2 separate regions of the Homo sapiens genome follow, and region 1 is linked to region 2. The links come from fine-mapping of genetic effects on gene expression. Tissue or cell type: testis. Region 2 holds a variant in brackets; the other region holds the start of a gene. All regions are shown on one strand. Distances are between the middles of the regions.

Region 1 (4,240 bases), 34 kb after region 2:
AGGGCAGTTCCCCTGCACACGCTGTCTTGCCTGCCGCCATGTCAGACATGCCTTTGCCCCTCCTTCGCCTTCACCATGATTGTGAGGTCTTCCCAGCCATGTGGAACCGTGAGTTCATTAGATCTTTTTTTCTTTATAAATTACCAAGTATTGGGCATTTCTTCATAGCAGTATGCAAATAGACTAATACAACATGCCTGCTCTATAATAGCCTTGACAATTATGTGGCTACTTTGTTTAGTTTCAATCAGGTGAAAGTGATGACTCAAAGAAGATGCACTCTCTTTCTTTATCAATATTCCTCTGGGAGGGAGTAACTAACTTTTCAGAGAACCTTGCCAAGCCTTTATTTCTCACTTGCTTCTGAAGTTGTAAGGTAGATGCTATCCTCACAAACTCCCAACACTCTTCACTTTCCAGTAGTTGTTGTTTGGGTGTGAGCTGGCCTAATTGGACCCATGAACTTGACTTGACTAAACTATCTGAAGGGAATACTCTCATAGTATAGGTATTTATTTAACATATGCGTATTGAGGCCTATACTATGCCAGCTACTGCACAAACTGCTAGGATACCACTGTGGACAAAAACAAAACAAAACAAAACAAAAACTAGGCATTCTGTCTCCATGGAGTTTACATTTTAGAATGGGAAGCTTACTATAAGGTCAATAGGTAATATTTGTAGTATATTAGTGCTAATTGCTAATAAAGAAAATAAAAAGAAAATGAAGTAGGAAGGAAGAATGGGGGTTGGATTACAACTGTAGTCTGGATGGCCAAGGTCAACCTCAAAGAGAAGGTGGCATCTGAATAAAGATGGGATGGAGATCAGGGCCTCTGGAAAGGTCCCTGGGGAGGAGATGAAAGGTCTTCTGAGGGAATAAGGCTCCAGGCTATTCTGTGACATCCCCAGAATATTAAAACAATAAGTGTCAAAAGCATTAGCAAATGTGTGATGTTTCAAAACATGTTCTTATGTCGAAGTTACAGGGCAGTACTCTCTTTCAATCTGGTCAGTGTCATTTTTGTGATCTGTATAGCCACCTTTGGGGAAAATGTCACAAGTCTAAATCTGAGGCTGCTGGTGGACATGAGGCTCAGGCCCCAAACCCCCTCCCCTCCTCCAGCTCTTGACTTCTTGTAATGAGGGCAGGCATCAGAAGGTCTGGGTTCTAATGCCCACACCACCTCTTAAACGAACTAGCCCTGAACCTCTCTTTTAGAGGCAATTTTCTCCTTTATAAATCAAGAATTATCTCTGTCCTATACATGAATTTAGATTTGTTGTGACAGCAACATTGGGCTGTTCCCAATTTTCCCACCCCATTCCACATCTGGGGTTTCTATTATTTTTCCTTGGATAAGAGAAAAGATGTGGACTTCCTTACTTCCATGGAATTTTCCAAGCACAACTGAGGTACGATCCATGGGATCAGATACAGGATGGGATGTACTAGGAGCTGGTCTGGGATTCACCTGAAGTCAGGCAGGAAATAAAAGTCCAGGAGGAAGAAAGCCCTTCTTTATCAATTTGACCCTTGGCTGCTTTTCTTGATAGTACCATCCCTCAAGGAACAAGATAAAGAACAAGAATTTAGAACTCTCCCCTTGCTACAATGCAATGATAGAATACTGGATAGAGAGAACACATTCTTAAAGTTTTTCAAATCTGTTCCCAAGATGTCCACATTTGAAATACTCAGTGAAGCCAAATAAATACTTGCCGTGTCTTTAATAATCTGTACCATGATTACACCAGGGAAGTGCTGATGAAAATCCCCTGTTGGTTTAGTTGGATCACTGTAGCTGTCTCCTATTTATTACAGTATCCTGCCTGGAATACATGGATAACTTCTCTATGACATCATTAAACATGTCATCTCAGAACCTGGAACTTTGGCAGACTTTGGATCCTATTTCACTTTTATGCCATGACTAGTTCATTTGTGGACAGCCAAGAATCAGAAAACTGAGGGCTTTATATGCAGAATCAGTAATGTGTTTGCTTTATTTTCATCTTTTATAACCTATTTCTAAATATCCTTCTCCCTTCTCTAATCCCTCCATCCCATCACCAAATGAGAAGTAAGCAGAGTAATATTAAATAGATGAGATTTTCACTTAAGAATTTGAAGATTTTGCTGTTGAGAAAAATACTAAAGTCTTAACCCTATAATAATGAGTTTCCTGTAAGTTTGATTTCATGAGTCATAAATTCCCTGAACTTTGTTATTTTGCTCTAATTATTTAGAGAGTAAAGAAATGTCACTTTTATGCTCTAGATCAAGGGTTGGCAAATGTTTTCTCTAAGGGAACAGATACTATTTTAGTTTTATGGGCCTCATACAGTCTTTGTTGCATGTTCCTTATGTTTTTGCAACCTTTAAAAAATGTAAAAACCATTCGCAGCTAGTAGGATGTACAAAGAACAGCAGCAGTTTGCTGACCCCTGCACTTGATGATTTGCCATTTTCAGAACTGATGTCAGAAAAATTCTGAACATGACCATGGCCAATGTTCTTCAAATCTACAGAGCAACAAGAACAACCAAAATGAGAAATAGTAGATTCTATAATAAAACAAAAATAGCAAAATCCTTCTTTCTGTTTTTCTATATATGCAGCTCTGGGCCTTCAATCATGTGTTGCATGAAAACTGTCAGATGGAGACAGTGGCTGCCTCTGTAGAGGTATTTGAAGTATGCATGTAACAAAATATCACATGTACCCCATAAATACGTAGAAGTATTATGTATTGATATGGTTTGGCTGTGTCCCCACTCAAATCTCATCTTGAATTGTAGCTCCCATAATTCCCAAGGGTTGTGGGAGGGACCGGTGGGAGATAATTGAATAATGGGGGCAGTTCTTCCATACTGTTCTCATGGTAGTGAATACATCTCATGAGATCTGATGGTTTTATAAGACGTTTCCCCATTTGCTTGGCTCTCATTCTCTCTTGCCTGCTGCCATGTAAGACGTGACTTTCACCTTCTGCCAGAATTGTGAGGCCTCCCCAGCCACATGGAACTGTGAATCTATTAAACCTCTTTTTCTTTATAAATTACCTAGACTTGGGTATGTCTTTATCAGCAACGTGAAAAGAGACTAATACACGTATTAACAAAAAAATTTTTTTTATTATAGTTTAAGTTTTAGGGTACATGTGCACAATGTGCAGGTTAGTTACAAATGTATACATGTGCCATGTTGGTGTGCTGCACCCAGTAACTCGTCATTTAACATTAGGTATATCTCCAAATGCTATCCCTCCTCCCTCCCCCCACCCCACAACAGGCCCCGGTGTGTGATGTTCCCCTTCCTGTGTCCATGTGTTCTCATTGTTCAATTCCCACCTATGAGTGAGAACATGCGGTGTTTGGTTTTTTGTCCTCGTGATAGTTTGCTGAGAATGATGCTTTCCAGCTTCATCCATGTCCCTACAAAGGACATGAACTCATCCTTTTTTATGGCTGCATAGTATTTCATGGTGTATATGTGCCACATTTTCTTAATCCAGTCTATCATTGTTGGACATTTGGGTTGGTTCCAAGTCTTTGCTATTGTGAATAGTGCCGCAATAAACATACATGTGCATGTGTCTTTATAGCAGCATGATTTATAATCCTTTGGGTATATACCCAGTAATGGGATTGCTGGGTCAAATGGTATTTCTAGTTCTAGATCCCTGAGGAATCGCCACACTGACTTCCACAATGGTTGAACTAGTTTACAGTCCCACCAACAGCCCAAAAGTGTTCCTATTTCTCCACATCCTCTCCAGCACCTGTTGTCTCCTGACTTTTTAATGATCGCCGTTCTAACTGGTGTGAGATGGTATCTCATTGTGGTTTTGATTTGCATTTTTCTGATGGCCAGTGATGATGAGCATTTTTTCATGTGTCTTTTGGCTGCATAAATGTCTTCTTTTGAGAAGTATCTGTTCATATCCTTCGCCCACTTGTTGATAGGGTTGTTTTTTTCTTGTAAATTTGTTTGAGTTCATTGTAGATTCTGGATATTAGCCCTTTGTCAGATGAGTAGATTGCAAAAATTTTCTCCCATTCTGTAGGTTGCCTGTTCACTCTGATGATAGTTTCTTTTGCTGTGCAGAAGCTCTTTAGTTTAATTAGATCCCATTTGTCAATTTTGGCTTAAAAAATTAAAAAAGGTACTTGAAGTATTTTCAATGTCTTTGTTCATTGCTTGTTCTCTCTCGTTTTCACTGGGATGCATCCT
Region 2 (4,240 bases):
CTAATTTTTGTATTTTTTTTTTCTTTTTTATAGAGACAGAGTCTAGCTATGTTGCCCATGCTGGTCTCAAACTCCTGGGCTCAAGTGATCCTCCCACCTCAGCCTCTCAAGCAGCTGGGACTACAGATGCAAGCCACCATGCCTGGCTAATTTGTCTATTTTTTGTAGAGACAGGGTTTCACCATGTTGCCCAGGCTGGTCTCAAACTCCTGGGCTCAAGCAATCCACCTGCCTTGACCTCCCAAAGTTTTAAGATTACAGGCGTGAGCCACTATGCTCTGCCTACTCCAAAGAATTCTAAAAAAGCATATGGAGCCTATGCTTTGTCAAAATCTCAGTTATTAATGCCTAGGAAAGCCAGCTCCACTCTGTCTATGACTTAAGACTCCAGTGTTTATCTGGTGCAGCCTCAGCATAGACACAATTAGTACGGTACAGAAGAAGCCATCTCCTCTGGGCTCTAAATGTCTGAGTTAGCTCAGTTTTTTTTTTTTTTTCAATAGGCAGTAAAAGGACTTTCTGGTTTGTATGTGTGTGGGTCTGTGTGTGTACACGTCTGTGTTTATAGGAGGACTTTAGAAAGGGAGTGAGAGAGAGAGAAAAATGACACAGTTCAAACATAAAATGATGGCTGGGCATGGTGGCTCATGCCTGTAATCCCAGAACTTTGGGAGGCCGAGGCAGGAGGATCACTTGAGGGCAGGAGTTTGAGACCAGCCTGGACAACATAGTGAACCCCTGTTTCTACTAAAAACACAAAAATTAGCCAGTTGTGATGACGCCTGCCTATAATCCTAGCTACGCAGGTGGCTGAGGTGGGAGAATAGCTTGAACCTGGTAGGCAGAGGTTTCAGTGAGCCGAGATCATGCCACTGCACTCCAGGCTGGGCAACAGAGCAAGACTGTCTCAAAAAAAAAAAATGATGCATTGGAGAAGAATTTTGTACCATAAGAAATGGCTTAATCGGGGGAGGCTTTCATATGTTCAAAGTGCACGAGGGCACTAAGACATTTATTTGTTCCTTGACCACTGGGAAGAATTGGATCTTTGCTAATCTCTGGAAAATCTTGATGACCTGGTAATACTTAGCTGTGCAGGACCTCTCTTGTGAAGGTCATAAAAACACTGCCCAAGGAGTGTGCTCAGAGCAAGTGGGAAGCCCAAGTTGGAGAATGGAAATGATGCAATCTCTCATATTGCAACAGTTTTTAGCAATTGTGCAGTGAGATTGCATTATGGTATTCAACCAGCAAAGCATTAGGAGAGAGACCAGTGGAACACTACAGTATTTGCTGGAAATGAAAGCACAAACACATTTGCTCTTGCCTTTTCAAATGTCACAAGTGTATTTTGCCTTGGAGATCAGCTTACATTAATTCTTGAGTCTTGGCTTCCAATTTTTTAGCATCGGCTCCACAAAACTCAAAAATCTGTTCACAAATGCACAAAGGTGAAACATTTATTGATTCAAGTGCTGCGAAAATGTTGAGGCTTTAAGGAATTTTATTCCTGATTGAAAAGTTAAATCCTACTCATTTCCATCATCTGCAAGACACTTTAAATATAAATATACATTAAACACATTAAATTCATAATATTTTCATATTTGGCATCCTTTCAAAATTACTTTTGCTAAAAACTTTGCCAGATCTCTATAATTCTCCATAATATACCTTTAATCTAAGATCTAAAACGTATAATAATCTCGGAAATAAACAAACTCCATCATTGGAACTTCTCAGAGCTCTTATACATTGGTATCGAGGATTTGTCAATTAATATACACAATCT[T/C]CTGAAATCAAATGGCTTGGGATTTGTCATTCCCTGACTTCTCCCCAGGTAAGAGTATTATAATTCATTGATTCTAAGAAGCACATGTTCCTTTCAAATGTTTACATCTCTGAATCAGAATGCATTTCATAGTGGATGGTATGTTATATTTCACTTGGAACACTTCTTAGTGGTATATAAAATAATGCATCTTTTTTGAAGAAAGATGGAATTCAAAGATGGAATTCAAAATATATTACATGGTTGAAGACAAGGAAGAGTGTGAGGTTGGGATTGGGTGAAAACTTGAGTTCCCAGTAAAGGGGCGGTTGAGCCACCAGGAATGGTGTTAGGACTTTGGGGCAGGGGCTAGAAAAGTCTAGAACTAACTTTACTGCCCGGTGTGCTGCAGGGAGAAACCATCCCCACACCAAAGGCTTCTGCTTCTCCAGGCAGCAGCATTCTGCCTGAGTGTGTCATTATATTTATTCCTTCAAAGTAAACCCCAGATTTCTAACTCTAACTTGATCCCATTTCACTTACCAGGTTGCTCATGAATCCACTTCTATAACAGCAAATTATTCTTTTGATTCTTGAGAATAGGGTTACCTAAGTGTGGGTGCAGAATTTCATAATTTATCTGAGTTGCCTGGTTTGTAACCATCTCCCCTATAACTGGTTCTTTTGGCCTTGGCCAGGGAAGGAAGGTGTCAGAAAGGATCTGCAAAAGTTTCTCTTTGCTAAGAGTTAGGTGGCAGCTGGGTGGTGGCTCTTTGGCATGAAGGGAGGTTCATGATCCTCTGCAAAATCTGAGGTCAGAACTCGTGCAAAGATAAGAACGTCTGGTGGAAACATAGGCAAGGCTTGGCTACCTGAATGACCAGACTTGGCAGGAAACATAATAAATTCATTTTGCCTGTTTTTGGACTTTTAAAGATGGATGGCCGGGTGCAGTGGCTCATGCCTGTAATCTGAGCACCTCGGGAGGCTGAGGTGGGTGGGTCACTTGAGATCAGGAGTTTGAAACCAGTCTGGCCAACATGGCAAAACCCCATCTCTACCAAAAATACAAAAATTAGCCAGGCGTGGTGGTGTGCACCTGTAATTCCAGCTACATGGGAGGCGGAGGCACGAGAATCACTTGAACCCAGGAGGTGGAGGTTGCAGTGAGCCACGATCAAGCCACTGCATTCCAGCCTGGGTGACAGAGAGAGATTCTGTCTCAAAAAAAAAAAAAAAAAAAAAAAGGAATATGGTGCACTGATTCAAATGTAATTGTTTTTAAAAAATAGAAAAAAAGAAAGATGGAATTCTACGATATGTATTCTTCTGTGTCTGGCATCTTCCACTCAACATGATGTTTATGAGACTTACCTGGAGAGTGTCACTACAGTCATTTTTCAGTGTTTCTTTGGTATTCCATTGCATGAATGTAACACAGTTTATCCATTTTTGCTGTGACAAATAGTGCTACTGTGGATGTTCTTGTCCATATCTTTGTAGGGATATCTTTGTGAGCACATAAGCACTGATTTCTGTTGTATAGCTAGAAGTGGGATTGTGGGTTCTGCTTCAGTAGAAGCTACCCCACAGTTTTTGAAATTATACTGCATGTATTTTCTTTTTCTTTCTTTCTTTCTTTCTTTCTTTCTTTCTTTCTTTCTTTCTTTCTTTCTTTCTTTCTTTCTTTTTCTTCCTTCCTTCCTTTCTTTTTCTTTCTTTCTATTTTCTTCTTTCTTTCTTTCTCTTTCTTACTCTCTTTCTTTCTCCTCTTTATATCTTTCCTTCTTTTTCTTTCTTTCTTTCCTGTTTCTTTCTTCCCTTCCTTCCCTTCCCTTCCCTTTCTTTTCTTTTCTTTTCTTTTCTTTCTTTTCTTTTCTTTTCTTTCCTTTCCTTTCCTTTCCTTTCTTTTCCTTTCTTTTCTTTTCTTTCTTTTTCTTTTCTTTTCTTTTCTTTTTTTGACAGAGTCTTTCTCTGTCACCGACTTTGGAGTGCCGCAATCTCAGCTCACTGGAACCTCAGCTCACTGCAACCTCAGCTCACTGCAATCTCTGCCTCCCGGCTTCAAGCGATTCTCCCACCTCTGCCTCCCACCACCACTCCTGGTTAATTTTTAAAATTTTAGCAGAAACGGGCTTTCACCATGTTGGCTAGGCTGGTCTCAAACTTCTGACCTCCAGTGATCTGCTCATCTCAGCCTCCCAAGGTGCTGGGATTACAGGTGTGAGCCACCATGCCTGGCCTGCATATATTTTCAATTTATACTCTACCAGCAGAGGATGAGTGTTCTAGCTCTAGCTCTGCATCCTTGACAACACTTGATATTGCCAGTCTTTTTCATGTTAACAATTCTGGTGGCTTTAGGGGACAAGTTTGCTACCAAATTCCATATGTTTTACCTTGGTCAGCTTTCACCTGACTTTAGCAATGGCTATATAACTTGTCTCTTTCGGTCTCCAGTCTTGTGCC

What was found. PIP is the estimated chance that this variant, and not a neighbour inherited with it, causes the effect.
Region 1: TXNDC8 starts here. The variant in region 2 is fine-mapped to the expression of TXNDC8 in testis (GTEx, PIP above 0.99).

Annotation. Positions count from the first base shown.
Region 1 is chr9:110,336,047-110,340,286 of GRCh38, forward strand. It overlaps TXNDC8 (thioredoxin domain containing 8), which reads right to left and starts at 1,817. Exons shown (of 6, transcript NM_001424031.1): 1 at 1,727-1,817. The coding sequence starts at 1,750. It overlaps LOC124902245 (a long non-coding RNA gene), which reads left to right and starts at 158. Exons shown (of 2, transcript XR_007061728.1): 1 at 158-2,191; 2 at 2,479-2,596.
Region 2 is chr9:110,302,153-110,306,392 of GRCh38, forward strand. TXNDC8 (thioredoxin domain containing 8) reads right to left here. Exons shown (of 6, transcript NM_001424031.1): 5 at 2,315-2,380; 6 at 1,324-1,431. The coding sequence ends at 1,369. The region is part of intron 1 of LOC124902246 (a long non-coding RNA gene); the gene reads left to right. Among named protein-coding and RNA genes, the nearest start is that of TXNDC8, 34 kb to the right of the region's middle. The variant T/C (reference allele first, on the strand shown) is at 1,793.